Linked DNA regions of Homo sapiens. The protein of the gene in region 2 interacts with the protein of the main gene of each other region in a pairwise test. Each region holds a gene or a part of one and is shown on either strand. Other genes may lie near its edges. The genes, in order: MUC20, ALDOB, HIVEP1, AGXT2, MAP2K4 and MLH3.

What was found.
Region 1: the proteins of ALDOB (region 2) and MUC20 interact in a two-hybrid assay, tested with the Homo sapiens proteins (one large-scale study listed by BioGRID and IntAct).
Region 3: the proteins of ALDOB (region 2) and HIVEP1 interact in a two-hybrid assay, tested with the Homo sapiens proteins (one large-scale study listed by BioGRID and IntAct).
Region 4: the proteins of ALDOB (region 2) and AGXT2 interact in a two-hybrid assay, tested with the Homo sapiens proteins (one large-scale study listed by BioGRID and IntAct).
Region 5: the proteins of ALDOB (region 2) and MAP2K4 interact in a two-hybrid assay, tested with the Homo sapiens proteins (one large-scale study listed by BioGRID and IntAct).
Region 6: the proteins of ALDOB (region 2) and MLH3 interact in a two-hybrid assay, tested with the Homo sapiens proteins (one large-scale study listed by BioGRID and IntAct).

The regions. Positions count from the first base shown.
Region 1 is NC_000003.12:195,730,313-195,735,436, reverse strand, and holds the end of MUC20 (mucin-20 isoform a precursor), read right to left. Parts: intron 2,288-5,124; coding exon 2,219-2,287; 3' UTR 1,886-2,218; downstream 1-1,885. UniProt on the Homo sapiens protein: May regulate MET signaling cascade. Seems to decrease hepatocyte growth factor (HGF)-induced transient MAPK activation. Blocks GRB2 recruitment to MET thus suppressing the GRB2-RAS pathway. Inhibits HGF-induced proliferation of MMP1 and MMP9 expression.
Region 2 is NC_000009.12:101,418,827-101,423,734, reverse strand, and holds the end of ALDOB (fructose-bisphosphate aldolase B), read left to right. Parts: intron 1-1,830; coding exon 1,831-1,926; 3' UTR 1,927-3,175; downstream 3,176-4,908. UniProt on the Homo sapiens protein: Catalyzes the aldol cleavage of fructose 1,6-biphosphate to form two triosephosphates dihydroxyacetone phosphate and D-glyceraldehyde 3-phosphate in glycolysis as well as the reverse stereospecific aldol addition reaction in gluconeogenesis.
Region 3 is NC_000006.12:12,157,967-12,163,516, forward strand, and holds part of HIVEP1 (zinc finger protein 40), read left to right. Parts: intron 1-3,472; coding exon 3,473-3,963; intron 3,964-5,316; coding exon 5,317-5,550.
Region 4 is NC_000005.10:35,043,100-35,049,242, reverse strand, and holds the start of AGXT2 (alanine--glyoxylate aminotransferase 2, mitochondrial isoform a precursor), read left to right. Parts: upstream 1-1,293; 5' UTR 1,294-1,350; coding exon 1,351-1,438; intron 1,439-6,143. UniProt on the Homo sapiens protein: Multifunctional aminotransferase with a broad substrate specificity. Catalyzes the conversion of glyoxylate to glycine using alanine as the amino donor.
Region 5 is NC_000017.11:12,019,571-12,023,676, forward strand, and holds the start of MAP2K4 (dual specificity mitogen-activated protein kinase kinase 4), read left to right. Parts: upstream 1-1,306; 5' UTR 1,307-1,316; coding exon 1,317-1,431; intron 1,432-1,752; exon of another isoform or gene 1,753-1,957; intron 1,958-4,106. UniProt on the Homo sapiens protein: Dual specificity protein kinase which acts as an essential component of the MAP kinase signal transduction pathway. Essential component of the stress-activated protein kinase/c-Jun N-terminal kinase (SAP/JNK) signaling pathway.
Region 6 is NC_000014.9:75,030,187-75,035,736, reverse strand, and holds part of MLH3 (DNA mismatch repair protein Mlh3), read left to right. Parts: intron 1-2,246; coding exon 2,247-2,318; intron 2,319-3,557; coding exon 3,558-3,669; intron 3,670-5,021; coding exon of another isoform or gene 5,022-5,034; coding exon 5,035-5,194; exon of another isoform or gene 5,195-5,195; intron 5,196-5,550. UniProt on the Homo sapiens protein: Probably involved in the repair of mismatches in DNA.

The DNA.
Region 1 (5,124 bases), on a different chromosome or scaffold from region 2:
CTTCTGAGTGAAATGGGAGGATTGGAGCAAAGAAGTGGTGTGGTCTGCCTTATGTTGTAAAAAGACAGCCCTGGCTGACACACTGGGACTAGACTGGGGTGGGGGCTGAGCTGGAAACAGGGAGACCTGTAGTAGTGCAGGTGAGAGATGATGGCATCGTGGACCATCTCGGTGGTAGCACTGGAGATGCTGAGGAGGGGCCACATTCTGGGCACAGTTTGATGGCCTTAGAGCCAGCAGAATTTCCTGGTGCAAAATGTGAGAGGGGAATAAAGACGGTGCCGAGGATTTCGGCCTGAGCACCTGAAGGATGCAACTGACGTTAACTGAGATGGGGAAGATGCAGGTGGGGCAGGTCCAGAGGAAAAGATCAGAACTTCGATTTTAGAAATGTGGAGGCCAGGAGCAGTGCTCATTAACTGGAATCCCAGCACTTTGGGAGGCCGAGGTGGGTGGATCACTTGAGGTCAGGAGTTTGAGACCAGGCTGGCTGACACGGTGAAACTCCGTCTCTACTAAAAATTCAAAAAATTAGCCGAGCATGGTGGTGGCACCTGTAGTCCCAGATACTCAGGAGGCTGAGGCAGGAGAATCACGTGAACCCAAGAGGTGGAGCTTGCAGTGAGCTGAGATCACGCCACTGCACTCCAGCCTGGGTGACAGAGCCAGGCTCCTTTCCATCTCAAAAAGAAAAAAAAAAAGAAAGAAATGTTGAATGTGAGGTATGTATTTCATCAACATCCAAGTGGAGAGATTAAGAATTGAAATGAATACACAGTATACATTAATAATAATAGCTGTATATAAGGCTGGGCACAGTGGCTCATGTCTGTAATCCCAGCACTTTGCGAGTCTGAGGCAGGAGGACTGCTTGAGCTCAGAAGATCGAGACCAACCTGCTCAACATGGTAAAGCCCCTTTTTTACAAAACAAAGTACAAAAATTAGCCAGCTGTGGTCCCAGCTCCTCAGGAGGCTGAGGTGGGAGGATCACTGGAGCTGGGAGGTGGAGGCTGCAGTGAGCCATGGTCGCACCACTGCACTGCAGTTTGGGTGAGAGTGAGACCCTGTCTCAATTTTAAAAAATAAATCGTTGTATCTAAGAGGTGGGATTATAGAAAAGTTTTTCTTTCTCCTCTTCCCACTTCTTACTTTGCTTGGTCTTTGGAATATTTCAAAATTTTGAAATCATAAACAAGTTTTACTTTTATTTTAAATTTATTTATTTATGAGACAGAGTCTTGCCCTTTTGCCCAGGCTGGGGTGCAGTGGTAGGATCTTGGGTCACTGCAACCTCTGCCTCCCGGGTTCAAGTGATTCTCCCGTCTCAGCCTCCTGGGTAGCTGGGATTACAGGCACCTGCCACCACACCCAGCTAATTTTCGTGTTTTTAGTAGAGACGGGGTTTCACCATGTTGGCCAGGCTAGTCTCAAACTCCTGACCTCGTGATCCACCGGCCTCGGCCTCCCAAAGTGCTGGGATTACAGGCGTGAGCCACTGAGCCTGGCCAAGTTTTACTTTTATAATAAAAAGTAAACCATATTAATTTTTTAAAAAAATAATAGCATGTAAGTTATAACATATAAGAGGAATAATTGAGGCTTGTGTCCAGAACTTGAAATTTAAATTTAGGTCAATTCCACATTCTCTGCGATCCCACTGCAGGCCAGACACTCTGCTAGTTCAGGGGATACTGAGATGAACAAAGGTGGTCCCTGCCCTGCTGCAGCGGGCTGTTCGACAGGCTCCAGGCCCGTCTCAGTAAATGCTATCATCAAAGTCCAAACCAAGACCTGGGGGAGTAGAAGGAGGAGGTAGCAGTGAGACTATACACAATCCCTGTACTATAAAAATGGCGAAAGCATGCAGATCAATAGACAGCCTCTGGGCCACACTGAGTGAATTTTAATGCAGGATGGAAGCACACAGATGGGTGATCAGGTCTCTCTTTACTGAAACACAGAACATGTGCCAAGGTGAGTCCAAGGACACCTCTGGGAACAGGTGAAGCCCCTCCCCACACATACACTCCGGTGGATGTGAGCGAGGGTCCTGTTGCCACATCTGGGGTCAGGGGCTTGGACATGCTGCCCTTCATGGGAACCTTCTGGGTACCTCTCAGCACAGTAACGCAGCTGCAGTCTGTCGGTGGGGGCCCAGGCTAGGGGCAGCACCCTCTTTTGGCATACGGGACATGCCTGGCTGCAGCTGATGTCCGTTAGCCTCTCCTGACACGCAGTAAGGAGACCTGGAAGTGAGGCGCGTGGGCGTGGAGTTCCCGGTGGAGCTGGAGAGCAAAAGAGCCAGCTGTCCTTTCAGCCCATCTGGCCCATGAGCTCGCCAGAGGCAGAGGACAGGAAGGGACACTGGGGCAGAGTGCATGCGGAGGACGGCAACCCTTCCTGGGCCTCCTACATGCTGGACACAGGCTGGTGCCTCACACACATTATGTCATCTAAACCTCACAGCAACCTTATAAAGCAGGTGTTAGGATCCTCATTTTATAAGGGATGAAAGTCGCATAGAATAACTTATCCAAGATCACACAGTTGGGAACTAGAATTCACACCCAGATCTAGCTGGTTCCTAAGCTCATTGTCTAATCCCCGAGCCCAAACTGTTGGGCTGTCCCCGGACGAGAACTGATGCCCAACCCCATGTGGCCTGGTGCCTGCGCCTCAGCTGCTTGACCTGCTCCTGATCTCGCGGTTTCTTTCCGATTCCTGAAATCATTTCTGGTTTGGGGGCTTAGACCTGAGATTCAAAACTGGCTTCCCGGCCGGGTGCGGTGGCTCACGCCAATAATCCCAGTGCTTTGGGAAGCAGAGGCAGGTGGGTCACCTGAGGTCAGGAGTTCGAGACCAGCCTGACCAACATGGAGAAACCCCATCTCTACTAAAAATACAAAAATTAGCCAGGAGTGGTAGTGTGCACCTGTAATCCCAGCTACTAGGGAGGTTGAGGCAGGAGAATTGCTTGAATCCGGGAGGTGGAGGTTGCAGTGAGCCGAGATCGTGCCATTGCACTCCAGCCTGGACGACAGAGCGAGAATCTGTCTCAAGAAAAATAAAAGAAAAGAAAAGAAAAAGAGAAAGAAAAAGAAAAAGAAAAAGAAAACTGGCTTCCCAGCCGGACGCAATGACTCAACGCCTGTAATCCCAGCACTTTGGGAGGCTGAGGTGGGTGGATCATGAGGTCAAGAGTTCAAGACTAGCCTGGCCAAGATGCTGAAACCTGAAACTCCATCTCTACTAAAAATACAAAAATTAGCCAGGTATGGTGGTGCGGGCCTGTAATCCCAGCTACTCAGAAGGTTGAGGCAGGAGAATGGCTTGAACCTGGGAGGCGGAGGTTGTGGTGAGCCAAGATCGCACCACTGCACTCCAGCTTGGATGACAGAGTGAGACTCAGTCTCAGAAAACAAAACAAAACAAAACAAAACAAAACAAAACAAAACAAAAGCAATTGGCTTCCCTCTCCCACAAGGATTCACACTCGCTACTTTGATTATCACATGCCGGGGGCATTTGTCACTTATTTGGCCATCGGGTGTCGAGCCCCCGTGCCATGTTTAGGGAACTCCTCACAGTGGGAGTCACGATTGGCCTCACTGCTGCTAAGAGAACTCCAAGGACACAGACATCCCTTCTTCCCGTCCCCTGGCACCTGGCTGTGGGCTCATGGGAGTACAAGGGCTAAGCTCAGCCTATCAAATGTTCCTACTCAGGACTTTGGCTCTGGAGCAAAAAGTCCAGTGAGACAAAAAGGCAGCGAGAACCTATGTGAATGTGTGTGCAGGCCACGTGATGCCCCTTGGCTGTGGCAGCATCCAATAGTGACTGACCAGCAAGAGGGACAGTGTCCCAGCCAGCCTGATCCCACTGTCTGGACCTCAGAGCTCCTGGGGGCCCTCCTGCCTATTTTCCAAGCCTGCTGTCCTGGCATTGCTTTGATTCTATGCACTCTGGGACGCTGCCAACAAATCCCCCTTTTACTTACGACAGACAGAGGTTTTCTTTCGCCTGCAACAAAGGATCCCACTCTCCACGGACATATCTTGCTTCCCTCTGCTAAGGGCAATCATTCCACCTGTCCAGCCTGGCTATGAACTCTACACCTGGCATAAGACCCCCAGCCAGCATCTCTGCCAGGTTTACCCTTGCAAGGGATGACAGGAAGCCTGAGCCACTTTTCAGCAGTGTGGCACCCATTGACTGTGAGAGGTGCTGAATGCAAGCTTCAGGTATTAGCAAGGGCACTGTCCCATTGACTGTGAGAGGTGCTGAATGCAAGCTTCAGGTATTAGCAAGGGCACTGTCAAAGAGGCAATCCACATTAGACTGTGCACTGGGCCTGTTTTCACGGTTACATCTGTGAGCAGAGCTTAGACACTTCCCATCATGCCCCATCTGCTACTTTGTACCACACATTAGGAGAACAACCCACCCCTCAGTGAGGCCAGGCCCGTGACATCTGCACTGAGCTGACCCAGTCTAACCTCCAACAAGCCACACCATCCCCATCCTCAAAACCCTGACCCCGGAACTTTACCATTGGAAGTTCTATCCAGTGGGTTTTAGGAGAATTTTCCCAACTTGTACAAATACATCCCAATCATGGTCCTCATCTAGAGTATACATCTCTGCGGTTTTTTCTGCCTAGCCTCCCTATTTTCTTGGGGCTCATCCTTCCTCTATGGGATCCTGACTGGGTTGTCAGTCATGGTGACCCTTGCAGGCCATGGAGACCTGCACTTCCCCAGATGACATGAAAATTTGGGGAGAGGGGGCCGGGTGCGGTGGCTCATGTCTGTAATCCCAGCACTTTGGGAGGCCAAGACGGGTGGATCACGAGGTCAGGAGATTGAGACTATTCTGGCTAACACGGTGAAACCCCGTCTCTACTAAAAAAAAAAACATAAAAATTAGTTGGGCGTGGTGGCGGGCGCCTGTAGTCCCAGCTACTTGGGAGGCTGAGGCAGGAGAATGGCGTGAACCCAGGAGGCGGAGCTTGCAGTGAGCTGAGATCGCACCACTGCACTCCAGCCTGGGCGACAGAGCGAGACTTCGTCTCAAAAAACAAAAAGAAAGAAAGAAAAAGAAAAAAGAAAAGAAAATGTGGGGA
Region 2 (4,908 bases):
AGTGGAGAAGAACTTAGAGGAGCAGGACTGCATGAGACTCAATATTAAGCATAGGTGGCACAGCTGGTGTAAGACAAAAAGGAGGGAAGAGGCAGAAAAGAGAATACAGTTGGAATCAGCTCTATATAAGTCAAGAGATGTAGCAGTTGATGACTGATTACAGTTGAGGGTATCTGCTGAGAATGATGAAGAAATGGAAATTTCAATACTGACAGTCGGAAAGCGTAGAAAAGCAGTTAAAGGAACTTGCTAGGAAATTGATCGGACGTTATGGCCAGACATAGCCAAGCATCAGGTAATGTGCAGCTGAAATAAGAGTGAGTGTGTGGTAGCTTCATTCCTGAGTTTTCCTAACAGCAGTCTAAAGCATGCAGGAAGATTCAGAACGCAAAATAGCGGGGTAGAAGAGTGAAAGTTTAATAGGAAGGTAGAAGAGTGACAAATTTTACCGATAGCCTCTGTTAGCTTGCTGACCATAGAGGAAGCTAGGCAAGGAATCAAGAGTAGTCAGAAGTGTGGTGATGAGGCCCTAAAGGGAAGGAAGGCCCCAGGGAAGCTAAATCATCATCTCACAGGCATAAGAGAGGTATCAGATTTTCAAAGTAGTGCTTTACCTTGACTGTGGAAAGCAGGGTGCAGCAGTGCTGCTGTGTGGCTGATGGACTGAGGAGACCTAGCTTACATGATGGAGGGATTGTGAAAGCGCAGGTCATCAGGGACATCCACACAGAAGAAGGGAAGCTGAGTTTATCATCAAGGATGGTGCTTCCCAAGCTCCAGTGTGGATCTGAATCACCTGAAGGTGATTTTGGTTTTGTTGTCATGATCTTTTATATTTACACACAATAATTGTATAGATCTGTGGGGTATCTGTGATTTTTTATATATGCATATAATGTATAATGATCAAATCAGGATAATTAGGGTATTCACTCCAAATATTTATTATTTCTTTGGGTTTGGAACATTCCAAATCTTCTCTTCCAGCTATTTTAAAATATGTAATAAATCATTGTTAACTATAGTCATCTTACTGTTGTATCAAACACTAGAACTTATTCCTTCTGCCTAACTGTATTTTTGTACCCATTACCAACCTCTTTTCATTTCCCCTACCCCCACTTGAAGCGCTTGTTAAAAATGCAGATTATGGGTCTCACCCACTGAGTTTCTAATTCAGTAGGTCAGGGGTAAGGCCAGGGAATTTCTATTTTTAACATGTTCCTAAGGGATGCTGGTAGACCATGAAACACAGTTGGAGAACCATTGATGTAAAATGTAGAAATAAGTCCTGGAGAGAACAGACAATAGCAACACTGACTGGAAGAAGTGGTACCACTGAGTGACATTCAAATATTGTCGTAAGTTTCATAATTCTGAATTTATCTTTAACTGGAATGTATACAGGAAAGCAAATGATACTACAATAACTAAATAAAAATTACATATTCTTCTAGACCAATATAGGTAGAAAATGGAAATGTTTTTAAAATAAACATGTTTTTCTTTTGGTATAGTGTACTATACTAGTGAGAAATTTTTCAACTTTAGTTTCTAGTACTGTTGCTGCAATATTGTTGGTACTGAACAGAGATTTCCCCAGTAACTGACACAAACCTCAAGCTTACCAAAGAAATGCTCAGAAAACTGGGATAAAAAGGGGAGATACTTTATAGAAGGGGATGGTATCCCCAGCAATATTCAGCAACATTGCTGTAAAAAGAAGAAAATCTGAGTGAAGGTTTGACTGGTTTCCCATGAGAGGCAGACAGGGTCAAGGTGGGGTCACATTTACTCTAACCAGTCTCCTCTCTCATATTTGTCTTCTAGGCTAACTGCCAGGCGGCCAAAGGACAGTATGTTCACACGGGTTCTTCTGGGGCTGCTTCCACCCAGTCGCTCTTCACAGCCTGCTATACCTACTAGGGTCCAATGCCCGCCAGCCTAGCTCCAGTGCTTCTAGTAGGAGGGCTGAAAGGGAGCAACTTTTCCTCCAATCCTGGAAATTCGACACAATTAGATTTGAACTGCTGGAAATACAACACATGTTAAATCTTAAGTACAAGGGGGAAAAAATAAATCAGTTATTGAAACATAAAAATGAATACCAAGGACCTGATCAAATTTCACACAGCAGTTTCCTTGCAACACTTTCAGCTCCCCATGCTCCAGAATACCCACCCAAGAAAATAATAGGCTTTAAAACAATATCGGCTCCTCATCCAAAGAACAACTGCTGATTGAAACACCTCATTAGCTGAGTGTAGAGAAGTGCATCTTATGAAACAGTCTTAGCAGTGGTAGGTTGGGAAGGAGATAGCTGCAACCAAAAAAGAAATAAATATTCTATAAACCTTCAGCTGCTATCGGGTTTCACTTTTCTGCTCTTGCTGTCCAAAGACTCAGTGTATTTCATTACTTTTGACTCTACTAGACATGACTGGGTTTCAACAGTAAAGGTCTTCAACTCTTGCTAGTCATTGGAATCAAGCCGCAAAATTTTAAAAACTGAGATGCTCAGGCCACACCCCAGCTCAATTAAATCAGAAACCCTAGACTTGGGATCCTCTAACTATTAGATTTCTTAAAGCTCCCTCAGTAATTCCAATGTACAGTCAAGTTTGAGAACTACCAATCTAAATTTCAAGTTTGAGGGTATTTGAAAATTAAAGCCATTCACAATACGAAGCCAGCTAAAAATGTAGAATGATTTTGAGCAACTTGTGGAGTATAATAAGAGAATTAATGTGACTTCAATGCTTGGAGCATTCTTGTTCAAGTGGCCCAGGTTTGGTGAAACAGGACTACCTTGTCATCTGCACGTCCAGGCATATTTCGTAGTTTTGCAGTAAATAATATTCACATAATGATACTGTATTGACTTTCAATTTTCAGAATTAACCTATAGTTACAGCACTTAAGACAACCAGAGTTATAAAAGAGAATTTAAATATTATAACTTTGGACAATATAAAAGTGATGATTTAACTGACAGAAGCTAGGAAATATAAGGGGGAGGAGAAGTGGAAGAAAGCAAAGAGAGTCAGGAATACTACTTAAAACTGATGGGTTAAGAAATAGTGCTTTAATTCTATTTAAGTAATAAAAGAAATGGATGTAAATCATAAAAATATATATCTAAAATTAAAATATTGATGGTAGTATGCTAAATTTCTTACCTTGAATAATACAAAGACAAATGGTATTGTGTAGATTAACAAATGAAGAAACAGAGACTTAACATATTATTTAGAGGAATAAGACAGAATTAGCCAAAGGGGCTTACTCTAAGACCTGGGAGAAAGACCTGGGAGTCAGGGCACAGGAAAGATGACATTTCCTTATTACCTGCCCTCTACAGTATTTGAATATTTATTTCCATGTACTTGTCATTACTTTTCTAAAAACAACTACAGACAGTCATACAAGCAACTCAAGCCTATATGAGAGATCTATTAAGCCCACGGTTTTCATTTTACAGGTGATAAAACCAAGTCCAGAGAAGTAAAATTACTTACTGAGGATCCCACATTTATAGCAGAGCTGAGAGATTAAAATTCAGGTCTTCTGAACTCAAGTCTCTTGCTCAAAAAGTGGATACACAGCCAGAGATCTTACAGGGCAAGGTGACAGGCTGTGTTCAATATCTCTGCCACCCGTGGTGTAGTCTTGTACATTTCTCCTTGTACATTTCAGTCAATCATCAAGCACTTCATCTCCTACTATGTGCCAAGCTGTCCTAAAAGCAGGTAGGTAACACCTTGTGAGACAAAGCTTTTCTGCCAGATAGTTTTTATCTAGATCCTACTCAGCATCGCTGAATTCTTTAGATATTTTAAGAGGTATCTAAAGAAACCTCTCAGATTCTTATCAGTTAACCATGAATTTATAATCAAGGATGAGTTACTTATATATTTTGGTCAAGGCTGAATTACATTTTACTGGGAATGAGGATTTATATAATGCATTTTCCTGGCTATCATCTGATATATTTTCCCTACTAAGGGACTACTGTTGTCTTTGAAATATTAATCCCAGTAATTTCCTCCTTTCACGGTAATATGCAGACAAGTGTTTTACAAGGCTACAGAGTTCAATTTCGCTGTGATTACTGAGTGAGTATTTAGTGACTTCCCAGCTTTGGTTACTTTTTCAGATTTACTTTAGTAGTTATTAAACACCTACTAAAACTAAAACCTGGTACTAGACATGAAAAATAGAGAAATTTCAGCTTTAGGGCACACCAGACAATTAAGCTTAAATAGCTAAGCAAGAAACACACAAACCATTGACTGGGGGTTGGTAAGTGGGATGGAGAGTCAGGGTGTAGAATCAGATGTCTGGGTGTAGGAAAGGGAGAGATGGCATTTAGGTTGGACATTACAGGAGAACAAAAAGGAAAGGAATTCATAGAGAGGATACTGCCTGTGTGTAAGAAAATACGTTCATAAGTCACTGGGAGAAGAAGACATTTTGAAGCTATCAAGAGCCAAGGCCACACACGCACACACACACAAATGACTAAGTTGTGGAAAGAATAAAAAGAGGAATTTGTTTTTACTCTGAAGAGGGAAGAGGGAAGAAGGAAGGGAATGGGCAAGAAAATGAGGGAAGAGAGGAAGAAATGAGAAAGGAAGGAAAAGGAGGAGGCAGGAAAGAAGCTAGGGCAATATGTAATTGTGGGGAGGTGACGGGCTTTTGAGAAGGAGGAGAACTATTATTAAGCAATCTAAAGATACTGTCTTCTTGTGAGGAAGAACTGAGTTTCTCATTTGAGTCTACAGCATGCTTTATAAAAACAATATACTGAGATGATTCGTAATGATTCATAATGTGAATTAATTTAGGAGAAGCAAAAAACAACTGTGACAGTGAGAAGATAAGCTTCTAGAAACTTGCAGCAATCTT
Region 3 (5,550 bases), on a different chromosome or scaffold from region 2:
CTTTTTAATAGTTGTCAGCACTCAGCTGAAAGTCCCATCTGTTATTGTCTACCTTTCCCTTTAGAGCCTTCAAAATATGAACCATAGTTATTTTAAATTCTCAGTCATTTCTAACATAGGTGTCATATCTGACTGTGGTTCTGATTATTGCTTTGTCTCTCTGAAGTATGTTTTTTTCTTGCCTTCTTGTATGCCTTGTAATTTTGTGTTGAAAGCTGTACATCTTGTGTAAGACAGTAGAGACCCATGGAAATTGTTTGTATCCTAGAAATGTGCATGCCTCTCCTTCCTAGAGGCCTTTAGTGTGGGAGTTAGAGTTTATCTAGTTAGGAGTTTGCTAGGTTTGAGAGATTTGTTGGCAGCTATCCTCACTGCAGGAAAGGCTTCATGTTCCTGTAGAGATACCTTGTGTTTTGGCTGGGGGTTGGATCACAAGAACATCACCTGTTCAGTTCTAGTTTTAGGTCTTCCTTTTGCACTATGCCTCAGAAAGGGTCTCTCTGCACATTCTTGTTCTCCTGTTTCTCTCCAAGCACTGTTTTGTTACCTGTAATGCTAAGCTCCTTAGCTTGACATTGTGGGGCAAGGAGGAGGATGGGGTGCTGTCTCTGTTCCGATTGAGTTACAGTCTCGTACCTGCACCATTTTCTTAGGTTTCTGGGCTGTGACCTTCTCAGTTCTCCTCCCTCTCCCCCAAGTGTTGTGGGAGTTTCTGTGTAATCCTGTCCCTCCCCAAGGAGACAGGTTGTATGTGTATGTTTTTCCTGTTCCCTTTCCACACTGCAGTGAGTTTTCAGCAGTGTCCTAAGGACAACAGTGCGTGCCGCCCTTCTCCTCACAGGATAGGTCTTTTGTTTTCCTGGTGGAGACAGGGGAGATGGATCCAGGTGTAGTTCCTTGCCACTCCTCTAGAGTTACTGCTTCTCTCCCCCATATCTGGAACACAGCGGACACTTCTTACCCCACCCTCCTGTGAGCACCTGGGTGATGGTCATGGCATAGATCCTGTGTGAGAATGTAACCCTCAGAGGTTTCACACAATCTTGGCAGCCCACTCTTGACTCTAACCAGATACTTGAGCGGGACTCCCCTGACTGGGGTTCTGTTGTGTCTGCCCTCGGTGACACAAGCTTGTGTCTCCTTAGATTTTGGGCTGTTGATTATCTGGGACCTCGGCTTATTGATGGGTTTGGAAAAAGTTAATAAGTTTAAAGTTAGGCTGTACGTGTGTGTGTGTGTGTGCGCGCGCGCGTGCACGTGCACGCTTGTGTGTGTGTTTAACGTAAACAGGTCCCATCCTTGTTAGACTTTACAGCAAGAGCAGCCTTGAATGAAATCATCCTTTCTCTCCAGTAACTTATTCTCCCAGTCATTCAGTTCTCTTTAGTCTTTTTACAAATTTTACTTCTTTAAAGAAGATGCGTCTCCAAAAAAAAAAAATACCTAATTTGCTACTGATGTGGCAAATTCAAGTCAAATTGAGGATGACTCGAATTTTACAATGCCAAACAATCCTGATGGCCAACTGTCTTATTCTTCCCCAGGGCCTTCTCCTCAGCCAGGGCGGAGGCTCGTTGTGGGCAGGGTCCTTGTCTTTTATAATCCTCGCAGAGTTGCCAAACCTATAAAAAATTTTTAAAATAGGCAAGGTAGAGAAGTAGCTGAGGTGCAGGAGTCTGGGTATTTACCCAGAAATCACACATTCTGTCTCCAGCATAGGCCCCTAGAGCCAGTCAATACTTTGGTATTATTTTATTTCATTACTTATTTTACAGCATAATAGTAGAACCCTAAAAGCAAAAGCCTTATGAAATCACATGCTAACAGAACCTAAATGCATGTTTCATCTTAGAGTTTTTTAATTATAAAAGTAGCACACGTTTGTGATAAATAATGTAAAATGTCAAGTTCTTTTCATCCCCTAGAAATAATCACCCTCCAATCTTTTCTATGGGTCTTCTAAGGCTTTTCTCTAAACTCATTTTTGTCATATACAAAGAAAAAGTAAAAAATTAATATCTAGGCCATTTGGGAAAGGCAGCCTATTGCTTGTTGCTCTGTTTACATGTTTGTCTCTTTTCAAAAAAATACCTGTAAGTGCAGAATGTATCACAGCTAAACTGTACATTGTCTAATGTCATCTTTATTATATCTCAGTGACATTCCTCCCCCATAACTAAATTTTATTAAGCTTTCAGTGGGAAAGAGCCTCTAATTTGCAAGATTTTGAAAATGTGAAGAGTTTAAAAGTTCCACATGAGCTTATGAGATTTTTGAAACTATTTCCTGGATCATCTTGAAGATTCCTTGTTAAACTCAGTTTCACATGATGTTAAGAGGCTGATACTAACGACTTTTAGATAATATCCCCCTTTCTATGAGGAATGGGTTGAATCATATCACAGAAGAAATTGACAGGAAATTGTAGCATCTCTCTGAGTAAATAAGAAGGCTTACACATTAGGTGAATATGACGACACGGAGGACCATTGAAACATGCCTGTGTCAACCAAAAGAAGAAGCTAAAGCACAAAGTGTGGTTGAAAGAGTTGACTTGAGCCAGAATAAGGACAGCTGCCCAGATGACTCACCCAAACTGCTTGCTTGGCCTTTGTTACAGGCAGATTTTTAAAGGCAAAAAGAAAAAAACAAAAACAAAAAAACAGGAGGCAGGGGAGGGGGGCCGGTGTTACCGAGTAGACTGTTAGACAGTTCTGTCAGGAATTCTCATGGATATACAGAAGTAACAGTGATTAGTGACTGCCTGTCCACGGTTAAGCTATAGAATGTGGGATATAGTGTCCAGTGCCACATTACTAGGTTAATTCACAGCTACCTGTGGCAATGGGAAGCAGCTTCAGTAAAGTGTGGAGTAGGATGTGATTGCTGTCTCATCTTAATGCCTCTTTGGGGCCTAGTAATTTGAAAGGGCCCACATTCCTCAGATAAAAGTCCTTTTCTTTCCTCATCTATAATACTATTCAAATCTAAAGAAAATGTATGTTGCTCACAGATACCAACAGCCATCAGTTTTTTGTGTTTGATTTAATTTGTTCAGTAAAAGGAAGATACAAAATAGGGAAAAAGCTCAGGAAAAGAGTTGCGTTGAACTCTTTATTAATTTTATATGTAGTTCAGTTGTGTTTTAAAGATTTTCAAGTGCAATCTTAGAGGCCTTCATTTCCTTGTTTCTTGATTACCCTCCACCTGCCTCATTCCCCTTCTGAGAGTCATTTCCCATTCCTCGTCCCTGACCCCGGCCCCTCCCGCAGAGCTGCCCTCCTCTGAATCCTGATGGCCAACTGTCTTATTCTTCCCCAGGGCCTTCTCAGCCAGGGCGGAGGCTCGTTGTGGGCAGGGTCCTTGTCTTTTATAATCCTTGCAGAGTTGCCAAACGTATAAAAAATTTTTAAAATAGCACTTGTGCACTTGGAAAGCATTCCATCACATACCTCTTGGTTGTTTTTATTAGATGAAAAACAGAGATTCAGTTATGAGCGATCTGGATATGATCTTGAAGAATCTGATGGCCCAGATGAGGATGACAATGAAAATGAAGACGATGATGAGGACAGCCAGGCTGAATCAGTCCTGTCAGCCACACCCTCAGTCACAGCTAGCCCGCAGCACCTTCCATCTAGAAGTAGCCTTCAGGACCCTGTGAGTACTGACGAGGATGTCAGGATCACCGATTGCTTTTCTGGGGTACACACGGACCCAATGGACGTTCTGCCCAGGGCGCTGCTCACCAGAATGACTGTCCTGAGCACAGCACAGTCTGACTACAATAGGAAGACACTCTCTCCGGGGAAGGCCAGGCAGCGTGCTGCGAGAGATGAAAACGACACAATTCCGTCTGTAGACACTTCCAGGTCCCCGTGTCATCAGATGTCTGTGGACTACCCTGAGTCAGAAGAAATTCTGAGAAGTTCTATGGCAGGAAAAGCTGTTGCTATAACACAGGTAAATGATTGGCAGTTGTTCTTTTATTTCTTTTTTCGTTTTAACCTATTAAATATGGAGAACTTAATGGCTTAAGAAAATAATGCACTTAAGTGATTTTTTTAGGCCAAATCAGTTTGTATAGCTTTATTTTTTTCTTGTATTTAAGGGTAGAGGGTATTTTTGCCCTTTGGAGTCTTGTTGAGTATCTTAAGCAGTTCAGATATTTTATTGTAAATCTATGAAAGAACCAAATGGTTCTTGAAAAATACACCCATTTATTTTTATTTGCTTTTTGAAAAATTTTTGAAATTAAAAAAAAAAAAAAACGTGACAGTGGCGAACACAAGTCCCGCAACTGATTTATCTGCTGGCCCCTTCTGAGCAGTTTCTCCACTGGTGCTGATGTGATGATGGATTTTCACTGACTTACCCAAACATTTTGCACTTTGCCCCCATTGGCAAGACAGCTACCAGTTTCTATGGCAAAGTTAATGTGACCCGAAAACACATCAAGAAGTTCACTTTGCTTGAATTATCACATTGCTACAGCAGCTTGGGAGAGCTTTCTGCCCAAGAACTATCTCAAGGCAGGCACAGGCCTCTGAAAAGTCACGCTCCATGTGCTGTGAGTGAGTCCCTGCTCTACCTCTGGCTGTTTTGTGACAAATGATTAATTCTGGGAGGAATACATTCTTCCCTCATTGACAGTTCTCTTACCTCTAGTATGTATTGAATATTGCAATAGGATTTATGCCTAATTGTGGCAGATTGTGCTGTAAGCGTCTCTATCCCAAAACCTCTCAGACACTTACCAGTGCCTGGAAATCTGGTTTTCAGTAGACATTTCATAAACTTGCAAGTGATAGACAAACAACCAGAGAACTTTTTCATAGTAACATCTCTTCACAAATAATTCTTTAGTTCATTTTTCCCCATTGAGTTGACATAGCCAACTTGAATCTCAATTTCTCAGTAACTCTTAATCTCTAAAATAAGGTGGAGCTGGTAGTGCCAGAAACAGAAATAATAACAAAAATAGCAGCTTAAGAATATAGCTGTGTCCACTTCTCAGAGTTATTCTCTGTGTACAATATGACAAAATCCAGGAAATTTGCTTCAGACATGCAAAAGACTATACAAGATGTATTGCCATTATTTCTACCAGAAACGAAATTAAAGATGTAATAATTGTTTAATTGGAAGCTTATTTTTAAAAATCGAAAAATAATTTCATTGCAGCAAACATCATTTTTATCAATGCAAATATACTTACTTTTATCTCATTGTGAAGAAATAGATTTAGCACTAGCTTTATATCTCAGTGATTACAAAAGACCTGTCATAAAAGGATTGCTCTCTCTTGTCATTTAGAGCCCATCATCTGTAAGACTTCCTCCTGCTGCAGCTGAGCACAGCCCCCAGACAGCAGCGGGGATGCCTTCTGTGGCCTCACCACATCCTGACCCTCAAGAACAGAAGCAGCAAATAACTCTACAGCCGACTCCAGGCTTGCCTTCTCCCCACACTCATTTGTTTAGCCACCTTCCTTTGCATTCCCAGCAGCAATCGAGGACACCTTATAATATGGTTCCAGTTGGGGGGATC
Region 4 (6,143 bases), on a different chromosome or scaffold from region 2:
CCCTCTGTCCAACCACAGGACAGACTGTGCACCCCAGGGAGATGCTGTGTGTCCACTGGCCTCACTGACTTGGATTACTCCTGCAGCACGTGACCAGCCAGCTCATATGATCACTCCCTACTGCCCCCAAAGCAGAATTGACTGGGAGCTGGAAACCCACACAAAAAGGGACAATTATATTGAATGTAACATACTCCCTCTGCTTACCTAGTGCCTTCACCTCCTATGGGCATTTGGAGTAAAAGGTTGTTATGCAGGTGTTTGTGAAGGATGTGGCCAAGTCAGTTGTCTCCCTTACAGGGTGACCCAAGATTAATGATATCTACCCATCCCCAGTCCCTCGACCCCCTAGTTGCAATCAGCTTTGTCACTGTCCCCCTTAGGCACTGCCATGTAAAGCACGTGGTCCCCCATTCTGAAGCAGTGGGAAACCTAGAAGAGATGTACTCTTCGCAACCTGGTTGGATCTTAAAAACATGGTTCTAACTGAAAAGAAAAAAGACATATTACACATATTTACATAAATTAAAACTGCATTCACCCTAAACAATACACATTTTACAAGAATGCGTTCCAACAAAAGGATATATATAAGCATGCTAAATACTTGCTTATGGGGATTGAAGGTAAGGGGAGGCTGGAGTGGGATAAATAGGAATTTAAGAAATAATGAAAATAAGGCACACTAACTCCTTAGCTCTCAACCTTTTGCCTTCCTCAGACACATAAGATGATCCACAGCTGTCCAGAACCTTACCTAGCTATTTGGTACTCTCAGCTTTTCTTTGGAATGGCTCCTTCCCCATTGTTTTCTCCTCTCTTTCTCTAAGACCCCCAAAACCAATTTATTTGTTCATTCACTTCATGCATATCTTCCTTTTTCCTCTCTTAGTCACATACCTCGTTTCACAATCTCCGACCCCTTCAACCATGTCCTGATCCTTCTCCCACACCCAGCACCACCCTCCTGCAGAGAAAAGTGTACCCGGATGAAACTCCGATGGAATATTAAACTAACAGAACTTGTCAGATGACCTTTGCTTTATCTGCCTGCTTTCTTTCCTCTTCCCTTCTGTTCTCTTCTTTTCCTTTCTTTTCTCTCCTCTTCTCTCTCTCCTTCCTATTTTCATTCTATCTCTTTTCCTCACTCTCTTTTTCTCCCCCTTGAAGGCACTGTTACTAGAAATAGAGAGCTCTGGGGCTTGCCTGAAGCCATGGGCAGTCACCACTCCAGGATTCCCCTTTTAGCGCCTCCTCCCCATCTTAATCTCAAAGTCCAGCAGGATAGTGAGCAGTTAGAGCCCGGCCTCCAATCTGCTTCCATGGGGGTTGGCTTTCTGAGTGGGAGAAATGACTCTAATCTGGAGACATTTGCTGAGACCCTTGTGCCTGGTCACTTCCGCTCCCAGGATCCTTGAGATGCATCCTTTCCTGAGCCGTAAGTGGAAACCAGGGGGACGTGGGTCAGTAGAGGATCAGCGAGAGGGTAAGACTTGAGCTCCGAAGGCTGCTGCCTGGGATTCTGGAATGTTAGACCTGGGTGAGGTCTTAGAGATGAGGCATGTTTTTGACACACAGGTTCTCACCCTGAGTCAATGCCCCATTTTCATAGCCAATATTTTGTAATGCTCCTTTTTGTTTTGAAATGAAATTCGTGGATAATGAAACCCGACTATACACAATTTCAACATGACATGCTATCTCAGCTTCAATATTTTTAAAAACCAAAGGAAAGCAATCAAAATAGAGTGTGACTTCAATTTACAGATGCCCAAGGATGATTTCTATTTTTTCTTTTTTGAGACAGGGTCTCCCTCTGTCACCTAGGTTGGAGTACAGTGGTGTGATCATGGTTCACTGCAGCCTTGACCTCCAAGGCTCAAATAATTCTCCCACCTCAGCCTCCTGAGTAGCTGGAACTATAGGCACATGCCACCATGCCTAGCTATTTTTCTTTTTTAACTTTTGTAGACATGGGGTTTTACTATGTTGCTCAAGTTGGTCTCGAACTCCCGGGCTCAAGCAATCCTCTCACTTCAGTCTTTCAAAGTGCTCGGATTGCAGGCCTAAGCCATTGCACCAGGCTAGGATGACTATTTTAAAAGATGTAAAGCATCTGCATGAATTTTCATCATGCCTCTAGGAAGTGAGACCACGCTCTCAATTGCCAACAAGTGCTGTGATTCACCCAGAGTCATCCAAGCCAGGGCTTGACCCCAGGCCCTCCCCATCTACTCAGACTCTCCTCTCTGCAGCAAGAACAGAAAATATGAGGAGATGTGGGGTAACCAGACATTGGTGGCTTTATGAGTAATATCCTATATGCTTGTGATTTTCACATGGATCTTGTTTCACGAGAGCCTCACCTCCTCCTCAGCAAATTCCCTCATGCAAACATGAGATTAAGCAACTGTCTGTACATTTATGTGCCTGTGCTTCACGGGCCGTAAACAGGTACAGGGGACCATTTTACATTCCCCATTGTGACCAACTTTGCCTTCATTTTCTCCTCATATTTCCCTTTCACCCTCCTTCCTTCCTCTCCTCTTCGCTTTCTTACCCCTGAAAATTGCAGTTTTTTGAAACTTGACACATGCATGATGCTTTAAATGCATTATCTCCTTTTATCTTCAACCAAACTTGTTAGTGAGTACTATTATCTCATTCCACAAATGAGGAGACAAGAGAATAAGGAATATCTAAGAAATGTGGTCAAAGGCAGAAACATGTATGTGATAACTTGGGATTCAAAGCCAGGTCTATCTGACTCCGAACTCGAAGAGATTCTACCAGGCCCTGTCTATCCTCCCCTAGTCTTCCAATCCTGTTTGGACTGCTCTTTTCCCTTGGTCATGAGTTTCTTTTGCCAGAACATCACCTAACTCCAACATTTTCTCAGAAGCAGGTAAAATTATAACCAGTCTTATGCTCAGTGAGGAGGAAATTATGCTGAAAGTACCAGCTGTTGACCTAGCAAGAGAAATGCCCTAGACTGCCCCCTCCCCTTCCCTACCCCAACCTCTGAACATTGTGGAGTTGCACAGTGGAGCAGCAGGTAACCTAGAGAGGGCAGGTGAGGCCTAGTACCTAGAGATCTTGAGCAACTCGTTGGCGACGCCTTACCATAGGCCCAGCAAGGACACTACAGGGAAGCAGTCTTGGAAAACCACACCACTGGCCGGGTGCGGTGGCTCACACCTCTAATCCCAGCACTTTGTGAGGCTGAGGCGGGCGGATCACGAGGTCAGGAGATCGAGACCATCCTGGCTAACACGGGGAAACCCTGTCTGTACTAAAAGTACAAAAAATTAGTCGGGCATGGTGGCGAACGCCTGTAGTTCCAGCTACTCAGGAGGCTGAGGCAGGAGAATGGCTTGAACCCGGGAGTCGGAGCTTGCAGTGAGCGGAGATTGCGCCACTGCACTCCAGCCTGGGCGACAGAGTGAGACTCCTTCTCAAAAAAAAAAAAAAAAAAAAAGAAAAAAGAAAAAGAAAAAAACCACACTACCTAGACTGAATGCTATCCTCATCACCTGGCCTTGCAAAAACCTTTGGGACTTTTATGTCTACTTTCTTACCTACTCTACCTAGGTCTGTGCCTGTTTGTGCTTGCTCATCCAAACACACACTCACTAACATACATTTATTGAGCACCTGCCATGTGCAATATATACATTCAGGCAAAATATTTGAGCATCTATTATGCACCAGTGCTGCAGACTTAGCCACAATAAGCAAGAAAAAGCTCCTGCCCTCTATTCCAGGAAGGAGATAGACATAAATGAATAAGTAAATATGTAAAAATATATATGTGTGTGAATATGTATGTATTTATGTATGTATCCAATAGAGACACATGCCATGAATAAAACCAAATCTGGAAAGGGAATAGAAAAATATAATGGGGGTGAGGGGAGGGGCTGTGATAGGGAGGTCACCACGTTTTAAGTGTTGTTTTATATGCAAAAATAAATAAGTCACAATTCTTGTATAGTATCTACATAGTTACTGTACAATATTCATATGCATAAAATGTTCAGCTTTGTTTACACTTTGATATGCACAATCACTTTGGGCTAACTGTGTATACAAAGTTATGGAAGCAATTTGTTTTCAGTACAAAAGTGTGGAGAAATATCTCAGTGGGGCATTCTTTCCTACAATTAGCTAATGACTGAAATATATAACATTTGCAGGTGGCTGGGGTATGTGCTCCCATGTACCAATTTCCTAATATATGCCTGCTCTCCCACAAAGGAAGGAGGGCACAAAAAGTCATCTATTTCCAGCTGAGATGTTTCTCCATTCCTGCCAAGCCTATTTTAAGAAAACATTTAAAATTTGCCCTAAAGGGGGGCCTCCCATCTACACCCCTCCAGGCAGCCTTGCCACAGTCAGAACTGATTTAACACATGCCAAGGGCCAGGAAGGGTGATCACAGAGAATGCCTACTCCCGAACGTGCGGAAGAAGACCCACCCACCTCAGAATCAGGAATCGAGGAGTGCTCTTGCTTGTGGACAGCCACAACTGCCCCTGTGTGGCTTCAGCAAAAGGGCATATACTGGAAGGTTATGAAGGAATGGAGGGAAGGAGGGAGGGCAGCTGAAATAATCAACAGGAGGCTGAGGACGTGGACAGGACCCCACACGCAAAGAAGCCAAGGAAGGCCAGGCAGGAGTAGAGTAACTTCTGGTAGGAACCGCCTCTTAGCAGCTTTGCTTAGCGGATGCAGGCACCTGGCATTCACTGCCATCATCCTTGCACCCAGAGCACGCATGGGACAGAGGGGACCTCCACAGAGAAGGCTGTGAGAGATCATGTCCGGAGCGGATGATACCGAACAGCAATGGTGAGGGTCCTCAGCAGCGTGCTGCAGACTGCGGCCCCATGTGTGAAGAGAAAACGACCACTCTGGAGTCTCCAAGCTGGCAGCTCCAGCACAGAGAAGCAGAGGAGAAAAATTTCTCTACCGACCAGACACTGTCCCTCAGGCGTCCAAACCCCAACACAGCTTCAGCAGGCCTCCATGGGAGGCAGTGTCTCAAACGTCAATATCAGTGAGGGACTTCAAAACTGCCAAGGCCTCGAATTCCATCTGTCACTGATGTCCTCTAAGGTGGATGGAGGATGAAATCTTCCTTTCCTAACTCGTTGGCAATCCCAAGTATCAAATGAGATTGCAAATGTGACAAGGTTTTTTTCAAGTTACCTAAGATGCTATACAGAAATGAGATACAATTGGCATTTTGGGCCAGGCTTAGTGGTTCACGCCTGTAATCACAACACTTCCAGAGGCCAAGGCAGACAGATGGCTTGATCTCACAAGTTTGAGATCAGCCTGGGCAATCTGGAGAAACCCGATCTCTACTAAAAATACAAAACACTAGCCGGGTGTGGTGGCATGCCCCTATGGTCCCAGCTACTAAGGAGGCTGAGATAGAAGGATCGCTTGAGCCTGAGAGGTAGAGGTTGCAATGAGCAGAGATTCCACCACTGCACTCCATGTAAGACCCCATGTCTATTAAAAGTAGGAAAAGAAAAATAGCTGGGCATGGTGGCTGGTGCCTATGGTTCCAGCTACTCAAGAGGCTGAGGTGGGAGAATTGTTTGAGCCTGGGAGGCCGAGGCTACAGTAAGCCATGCTCACACCACTGTACTCCAGCCTGGGTGACAGAAGGAGATCCTGTCTCAAAAAAGAAAAAAAGAAAGAAATCATCCCTGGGCATCTGTAAATTAAAGCCATAATTTATTTTGAAAGCTTTTCTTTGATTTTTAAAATTATTGCAGCTGAGATAGCATGTCATTATTTTCACACATTATATGAGCATTGGGCAACAGAGCCAGACCTGTCTCAGTAATAATAATAATTAGCATTTTAATAAATCACACTGTGTCCACTGCATATTTTCAAATATTTTAGAATCTTTTTTTCATTTTAAAGGGTGAGGAAGCCCTTAATAAATACTCCCTCTGGGCTGAAAACTGGTTGTGAATACTGAAAAACTCGTTATCATTACAAAGAGAATTTTCCCTAGAGTTTCCAAATGCCAAAAAAATTTGATTTTTCTCATTTACTTTGCCCAACAGTTTTTGTCATTCGATATTATGATTTTGGGGAAAGAAAATAAAGTTGCAGTGAAC
Region 5 (4,106 bases), on a different chromosome or scaffold from region 2:
TGGCGGGCTCTCCACTGAAGTACACCTACCTGCTCTCACCTTCAATTTGCCTTTAATGCCTCTCCACTTGATGTTTACGGCTAGCCACTTTTAGGATCTGAGCCATCAAGATGATGGATGAAATTGGGTTTGGAACAAGAAGGCAGGGCTATTTTGACCCAGGACACATTTCCAACATGCTGTGAAGAACTCTCAGCATCAAATAACATCTGGGTGGAAGAAGTTTTGGGAAAGAAGTCTAGCTGTAGATCACACAATGCTTCTAAATGGGAGAAAATGTCCAGCTCCATGGCTTAGATTCTTTGGGAAGTAGGATAACTGGCTATTCCATTTTAGGCAAGGCTGCCTGGCCAGAAACCCATGTCTTACCATTTCGAGTACATTATGGTTGGCTTACAAATCGTAGCCTCATAGAGAACTTTTTCTTCTTTTAGCTACTGTCTTCCTAAAATAAAAGTCTCTGTGCAAAGCAATGGAAGAAACCTCATATTGTTTTTTGGGGTTGTCATTTTATGTAACTTACAATAATGACTACGGCTCGTCTTATACAAGATGTAAAGGATTTGGGAGAGGGAATCCAGTGTGCATTTAGGGGAAGATGGTGATGTAGATAGCATATTTCAGGAGGCTGGGAAGTGTCGAGTGCTTAAATATATGCTTCTCAAATTTAATGGGCATACAAATTACCTGGTGGTATTATTAAAATGTAACCTCTAATTCAGTAGTTTTGGGATGGGTCCATGGACAGCACTTTGGTTAGTTCCCCTTGGGACTCCCCTTTCCCCTCAGAGAAGTGTAGAGGGTTGGGGTATTGGGCTTAAGAGGAGTTCCAGACTGTAACCATAGCTCTAGGTAACTCCCTTCTGGAAGTGATGTGTTAGCGACTGGAGGAGAAAGGGATCCCTGGGATCCTTTTCAGCTTTACTATTCTGATTTGGGGTTCTGAGATTCCAACAAAGTGGACTTTTGGGAGTCACAGACCTCCATGGGAATGATGAAAGCTGCGTACCTTCTTTCCGCACAAATGCAGGCCCACCTTTAATTCTGCAAACCACTTTAGGCCCCGCGGGCCCGCAGCCCTGGTCCAAGACAGCTGTCTGCTTCACAGGTCGCGCACCCAGAGCCGGGCGGTTCTGCAGCTCAGCATCTGGCCCGGGCTGCGCGTCGGGCTCTGGCGGGGGCGTGTCAGGAGGCGTGTCCGGGGCGTGTCGGAGGCGGGGCCAAGGCGGGGGTAAGCCTCGCCCCTCGGCCGTGCGAGAGGCCGAGCTTGCTGCATTGCAGCCGCCGCGGCGCCGCTCGGCTCTTCACTCCCAACAATGGCGGCTCCGAGCCCGAGCGGCGGCGGCGGCTCCGGGGGCGGCAGCGGCAGCGGCACCCCCGGCCCCGTAGGGTCCCCGGCGCCAGGCCACCCGGCCGTCAGCAGCATGCAGGGTAAGGAACGCGGCCGCGCCGAGATCCCAGCCCCCTAGCGCGGCAACCCGCGTCGTCGCGGCCTGCCCCAGCGGACGCCCCCGGACCCGGCTGAGGAAGCCACGGCAGCCGCCGGCTTCTCCCTCTCTCCCTCCCCGGCTTCCCGCCCCGCTCCCGGCCGCCTCCGGCCCGGCTTGGATCCGGGCTCCGGCCCGCATAGGCCCCGGCCGCGGCCTCTGCCTGCGCTTGGCCCCTGGGCCCTACCGGGCTCTCAGCAGGCCCGCAGGGCCCACCTGGTCCGGGACCGCCCCCGCGGCCGTCCCCATCGCCCCCGCCGCTTACCTGGCGCCCGCCCGGCCCCCGTTTCCGGGAACGCGCCGGCTCGGGGCTGCGGCGGAGCGGGAGGGGCGTCGGGCCTGCCCCCTGGTCCCTGACGCCGCTCAGGTAGGCGGCGAAGACAGCGGCCCCGGCCGGCGCCCCTCGGCCCCGCCGCCGCAGTGGGCCCCGCTCAGGGCCATCTTGGCTGTCGCCGGGCACAGCTGGAGCCGGACCACCGAGCTGACCTCGGGCTACGGGGGCCTCTTGGAACCTGCGTTTTCAAACTTTTGCAGGGTTTCTGTGCGCTGGAAGGGATGGGGGTGGGGGGCGGGTTGCCCAGGCCTGTGCCACCTGTAAGGTAGGTAGGCTGCATTGGCCTGGGAGAGGCATTTTGTTCCAGGCCAGGGATTTCTGTGTTAGCATTGCGTGCAGGAAGAAAAAAAAAAAAAAAAAAAAAGAAGACTTAATTTGGTTTAAATGGAGAGATACAGGAAATAGACAGGGGTCAAAGTGATACTGTAGTGTCTGGACATTTGAGGCAGCTCTGCTAATTAATGACTTTCCCCACTGGGAATGCTTATTAGCTGTGTATGGCTTTTGACAGGGGGTGTTGTGAAAATACCAGGCCAGGCCCGAGCCTGTTAGGGACCATTTCCTTAAATTTACTGGGGAATTTTGAGTAGTAATGCTATTTTTAAAACAGGGAATCTCAGAACTCTCTTGACAACTTTAGCAAACTGCTTGTGTTGAATTATTAACAGAATAAGGGTTGGGGTACCCTTGGTAGTCAGTGTGACCATGGTTACTTTTTGATTCCATTCCTCTTAAAGGGCTTCTAGCATTTAGTTAGGTTCAACAGACATTTATTGAATAGTTCATGTTTATAGAGCATGCCATAATTCAGAAAGAAGAGACAGGATTTTATTTATCTTTACATCCCTGTCACCCTCCCCATGAAATAATTTTAATATACATAAAAACCAGTGATAGATATATAGACAGGATGATGTCAGAGCTTAGAGGACACTTTCTGTGCAGGCCCTCAGATAATTCATTCAAATTGAATTAGTTATTGGATGCCCACTGTGTTGCACAGCACATTATACTGATGAAGTATAAGATTGACTTCCTGACTGTACAGCTTTACAATTTAGGTGGTGGTGGTTGGGGCGAAATGAAATGGCAAAATGACAATTTAGGATTGTATTTCTTGTTCCAGATGGGTGACTTACAAAGCTTATAAAAACAAGGTGATTTGTTTGTTTGTTTTATTGGTGGGGAGGCTGACAGTTTGAAATAGCTGGATACAGTGTGTTTTTTTGGTTCAAAAAATATTTATTGAGCATCTGCATAAAACGCTCATGCTGAGTTTATAGAGAATTGAACATCTCTAACTGTCCTCATGGAGGTTATCCCCCTGTGAAGATGGGGGAGGGAAGGCTATTTAGCTAAACATGAAAAATTACTAGTTGGAAAAGTAATAAAGGTAACAAGCTGGGTTTTGTGATAGAAGATAATAGAGGGCAGTCCGCTTGATAAGATGGTCAGAGAAGGCTTGTCTGGAAAGCTAACCCTCTTTTACCTGAAGACGGTTCTAGGCAGAGGAACTGTGTGTATGAAGGTTCCAAAGCAGGGAAGAGCTTGGAGTGTTCTAGGAACTCCTAAGGCAGTGGTTAGGACTTTTTCTGATGCTGTCCGTTCTCCTCAGCCCTTGTATGTTGATACCCAGTTAACTAAACTTTCTAATAAGCAGAACCCATTTTAGAAGGAAAAAGGACCTAAGACCTCTCTATGAATTATTGCCGAATTTTCTTTTTTATCAATATTGTGTCTAGTCTTGATTGATTCAGGAATGTGTTATATCTTGTTCTTGAAACTTTTTTCATTAGTCAGAATGAAGTGCTTGATATTCTCAGGATGTTGTCTAGAACAGTCTGTTATAAAGCTTGAACTTAAGCAGCAATTTAGGATCCTTCTTTTTGGTTTGTTTTGTTCTGTATCTTAATTGTGAGGCCCTTGAAGAGGAAATCTTATAAGAACCCAAAAAGAAAGATTCCCATCCAATTGTATGGGAGTCACACCTCCCATACTGTACTTCATCTGCCAAGGGTCTTCTTTTGCTTTAGATCAGACTTCACAGAGTGGGCCTTAGAAGATGTTTGATGTACTTCCATTCCTTCTCCCCCAATCTAATTATACTTGCCACTCAAAAAACTTCCTTTCTGGGAGTTGTTAATGACCATGCTCTCTGAAACAGCAGGATTCAGTTGTGGAACATAAGGAATGTTTCATGCAGTAGACATTGGACATCCTCTTATGTGGTAAGCACTGTGGTGGGCACTGGATAACCTTGAATACTTTTTCATGGCTTCATGTTT
Region 6 (5,550 bases), on a different chromosome or scaffold from region 2:
GTACCTGCAGGCAAGTGCTAAAGTTTTAGAGCATTTATTCTCTATGTATTTCAAAATATTCCCTTTACCTTGTTTAGTAAATGTCATAGCAGATCAAAGGCAAATTAACCTAAAGTTCTGTCAGAATTATCATGAATATAGAATTTGTGAAGATCAAATTCCTATAGTTTTACTATTTCTAGAAAAGTAATAGTTTTTTGTTGTTGTTGTTTTTGAGACGAAGTTTCACTCTTGTTGCCCAGGCTGGAGTGCAATGGTGCAATCTCAGCTCACTGCAACCTCCGCCTCCTGGGTTCAAGCGGTTCACCAGCCTCAGCCTTCCAAGTAGCTGGAATTACAGGCACCCGCCACCCACGCCCAGCTAATTTTGTATTTTTAGTAGAGACGGGGTTTCTCCATGTTGGCCAGGCTGGTCTCGAACTCCTGATCTCAGGTGATCCGCCCGCCTTGGCCTCCCAAAGTGCTGGGATTACAGGCATGAGCCAACCCGCCTGGCCAATTTTTTTTTTAAGTTTTCATTATCTGGAATTCTTTGTTGTTTTTGAGATCAGAATCTCTACTAATGATACTCAAGATGGGTGTAACTACAAAATCTGCAGATGTTGAAAGAAGCAAAATGGATCTGTTGAAATTTCTCTTTTTTTCTTTACTTTTTTTTTTTTTTTTTTTTTTTTGAGATGGAGTCTTGCTCTGTCGCCCAGGTGGGATTGCAGTGGTGCAATCTCGGCTCACTGCAGTCTCCCCTTCCCGAGTTCAAGGAATTCTTCTGCCTCAGCCTCCCAAGTAGCTGGGACTACAGGCACCTGCCACCACGCCCGGCTAATTCTTGTATTTTTAGTAGAGACAGGGTTTCACCATGTTGGTCAGCTGATCTTGAATTCCTGACCTCAAGTGATCTGCCCTCCTCAGCCTCCCAAAGTGTTGGGATTACAGGCATGAGCCACAGGCCCAGCCAGAATCTGTGTTTTAATAAGATCCCCAGGGGGTATGTGATATGAACGTTTGAGAAGCCCAAGTCTAAGGCAGGATAAACATGGCCCGAGGGGAATCTGGGCATCACCTCTTTCTGTACAGCCAGGGAGATGGGAATGGTTTTTACATTTTTTAATGGTTGGGAAAAAAAAAGAAGACTATTTCTTGACACATTAAAATTATATGAAATTAGTATTTCAGTGTCCATAAATAAAGTTTTATTGGAACACAGCTACGATATTCACATATTGTCTATGGCTGCTTTGGCTCAAAAAGAATTGTTGAGTAGGCATGACAGAAATCGTGTGGCCCAAAAAGCCTAAAATATTTATGATCTGGCCCTTCAGAAAACGTTCTCCGGCTTGTGATCTAAAGTGCACTGGAAGTACATTCTTTGTGGGTTTCCAAGTAGCTTGTACACCAAGGTTAGCTGATTATAACAATGTGTTGTTTAACGATCCTTTATCATATTAAAGTTGAATTAATAAGGCAAAATCAGTATTTAAACATAAGAATTATATATTCAAGCTTCAAACTTGAGGAAATGCCACTTTGACTTTTTTTTTTTTTTTTAAGATGGAGTCTCACTCTGTCACCAGGCTGGAGTGCAGTGGTGCAATCTCGGCTCACTGCAACCTACACCTCCTGGGTTCAAGCGATTCTCCTGCCTCAGCCTCCCAAGTAGCTGGAACTACAGGCGCGTGCCACCACACCCAGCTAATTTTTGTATTTTTAGTAGAGACAGGGTTTCACCATGTTGGCCAGGATGATCTCGATTTCTTGACCTCATGATCCGCCCGCCTCAGCCTCCCAGTGTGCTGGGATTACAGGTGTGAGACACTGCACCCAGCCCTGACTATGTTTTCTAAATGAGATGCTGGTGAACTAAAGAGTTTCTTAGTTTACCTTTTGTTTCCTAAAAAATGAAATTATGGGGAAAATAATAAAACTTATAGGATAAAAATTAGTAATACTGGTAATCTCTGGAGAGAGAAACTAGAAGGGGTGGGGGCAAGAGTATAAAGGAGACTTTATTAAATTCCCTTTTGTGCCTTTCAGAATTGGATCTGGGATTCAAACATATGGGATAAGTTTGCTATCATTTTCCCCATAATTTCATGTTTTAGGAAATAAAAGATACAATTGTTACTCCTCAGAATGTTTTGTCTTATGCTGTTGTTAGATAGTTTGAATTAAGTCTTCTCTGTCCTCAACACACATGATGGTTGTCGTCTTGCTCTGAGAATCAAAGTTCACAATCCTTGCTCATCTAGGTGGGAACCTGCTCGTGCTGGTGGATCAGCACGCTGCCCATGAGCGTATACGTCTGGAGCAGCTTATCATTGGTAAGGATCTGTTTGCAGCCAGAAAAAATTTGAGACTCCCAGCAGAATCAGTACACCTCAAAGAGCTTTTCTAACTGCAACTGTTGTGAGAAAGCACACTTTGTACTGTATGTTCAAAAATTAAACTAAAGTCCTGCAGTTTGGCCTGTGTTATAATTGAAAGAATGTGGTAGTTCACTAATTGAAAGATGTGAACTTATTTATGTGGTCAGAGGCATATTTGCCAGATGTTATTAACAACCCAGAAGTACGCAAGGATAGGCTGCTTACTCTGACATCCAGCACAAAGCTCTGCCCCTCCATATGCCCGGTGATCTTGGCATGCCTTCCCACACTCCATCAGGCAGAGACCAGTGGCAGCTCAGAAGGCCCAGTATGCTGTTTTGATTTTAAAATTTAGTTTGCTTTTGAATATGCAGTATAATCAAATAGATCCAATTCTGAAAGGCACAAAAGGGAATATAATAAAGTCTCCTTTCTATCCTTGTCCCCACCCCTCCTAGTTTCTCTCCCCAGAGACAACCAATATCTCTGGTTTTTAAATCTATCTTTCCAAAGCAATATATGCTTTTTAAATGTTTTTTTTTGCTACCCTTTTCCTCATCATGAGGCAGTGTGTTCACCAAGTGGTAAAATACCAGGAAAGTCTTTACTCCTGTGGCCAATGAGTAATGTCAAAGAGTTAGGCAAGGACCTAAGGAGTGCTTCATGGACTAGAATGGCAATGATATTACTACTGTTTTCACTTTTCCTTATAAAATGACGGCCTAAGAGTTGGGAAAGATATAGTAAAAACAGTGTTAGAAAAACTTACCTCTACAGGCCCTGCACCATTTGAGAATAGTACTAATTCTCTCCAGAGACTGGGAGACCCTGCTCAAGGAAAGGGAAGCCTTCTGGAGCCATAAGACTGTGTGGTCAACCCACATATGTTCCTGGTAATCCACATTATTCACCTCTGTCATCAAAACAACATTTATTAACTACAGGAACATTGGCTTGTTCATCTGAATGTAAGATGCAAGTCTTATATTTCTTATTTTGAAAAATACTACCAAAATTGTTAATAGGCTGAATATTTATTAGTTTGACTTTAAAAATGGAAATCCAAAATCTAAAACTGAACATTAAACATTCTGCTTTGCATTAGAATGATTATCTCAAGGCCGTGCTTTATTTTTATCTGAATCTAGAAGACTTCCCTTCCTACTCTTAACCCATTCATCTTTCTGCCAATAGATTCCTACGAGAAGCAACAGGCACAAGGCTCTGGTCGGAAAAAATTACTGTCTTCTACTCTAATTCCTCCGCTAGAGATAACAGTGACAGAGGAACAAAGGAGACTCTTATGGTCAGTACCACCATGAGAATGTGATGTTGATGGTATCAATTCTCACAATAATTCTGTGAGGAATAAGCATAACTATTGTTCCATTTCTCAGATGAGACCAAGAGAGGTTACAAGACTTGTCTAAGGTCATAGCAGTTATTAAGTAGTGGAGCAGGCACTCAAAGGCAGGTCGTCTGACTCCACAGGCTGTTTGTTTCCTTTTTTAAAATATATTTTTTTCTGCATCCAATCATCCATTAAAATATTTATTTTGTGAGACATGGTCTCACTCTGTTGTCCAGGCTGGAGTGCAGTGGCACAATCTCTGCTCACTGCAACCTCCACCTTCCAGGCTCAAGCAGTCCTCCCACTTCAGCCTCCCAAGTACCTGGAACTACAGGTGAGCACCACCATGCTGGACTAATTTTTGTAATTTTTTGGTAGAGATGGGTTTTCGCCATGTTACCCAGGCTGGTCTGAACTCCTAGGCTCAAGCGATCCTCCCACTTTGGCCTCCCAAAGTGCTGGGATTACAGGCGTGAGCCACTGGACCCAGCCTATTCTTTCCACTGTATCCCAGCTGAAGAGTATAGGATAGAGTTTCCCTGATAATTTTTTCCAGCAGTTGGCTTAGAACACTCTTCTCATTTCTTGGAACAGTCTGTGTTTATGCCATGCTTTGTGAAAGCAAAGTTTCTGCAGTAATTGGTCCCATTCTGCTTTGCTTTGGTGCATTCTAGACTCTTAGTTTTCATTATCGTAATCATAATGGGAAGAAAGTAAAACATTGGGATGTAAGGAAGGGGCGAATCATATAGTGAGTCACAAGATAGGATATTTTTCCTCTTCTAGGCAGCACAAATTATTGAAAATGAAAAAGAAATTTCTCCCAATATGTTTCAGGTTTGGGAATATGATACTGCCAGTAAATCTTTTTTTCCCTATGACATAATTTATATTAGAGGCAGATCTATTTACTTACATCCCGTTAGTCAGGACTTCTCAATTCCTTGGGCTGTTAATTACCTCCCTGCTTTAATGCTGATTCAAATCACTCTCAGACCTTTTCTTCATGCCAGACTCCCTTAAGTGCCAGCAGCCAGAAGTTAGCAGTTCCTCAATGAAGAAAACACACTTAGAAACAAGACTTAGACACAGATTGATTCCCAATGGAAAAGAGAAAAACAATAAAGGTTACTGTAATTCAAAAAGGAAATTTGATAATAAAAAATCCCAAACACCCACACATAAGTGTGAGAAAAACAATACGGTTGTTAAGCCCTGTGGCAGCTTTTGAAAAACTATTAAGTAGTATTTGGAACCAGTAGTGAAGTGCAAATGAAGTAGCACTCTTTTTTTTTTTAACATTTGAGGTTATCTCTTTAGGTGTTACCACAAAAATCTGGAAGATCTGGGCCTTGAATTTGTATTTCCAGACACTAGTGATTCTCTGGTCCTTGTGGGAAAAGTACCACTATGTTTTGTGGAAAGAGAAGCCAATGAACTTCGGAGAGGAAGATCTACTGTGACCAAGAGTATTGTGGAGGTAAGACACAGCTGCAGATGTTAAGGAAATTGCTGAGTGATGGTAACCTCATATTTTGTCTGTAGATTCTCTGAATTCATCTTTTCTTCAACAAGTATTCATGGTATTTACCTGCGGTGTGCCAGGAGCTAGAAATTCAGAGATGAGTTAGCTCAAAATAAGGAAGAAGGGCATTTAAAGAATTATAGTCAGTGAACTTTGGCTAGTAGAGGTATGTGTTTTGCTTTCTTCCCAGTGATAAAGGTAATGAAAACTAAGAGTCTAGAATGCACCAAGATAGTTTTTCAGAAGTGTTATGGAAACACAGAATGACTTGTGTGCCTGGGGAGGTGAAGTCAATGAAAATGTCACAGAAA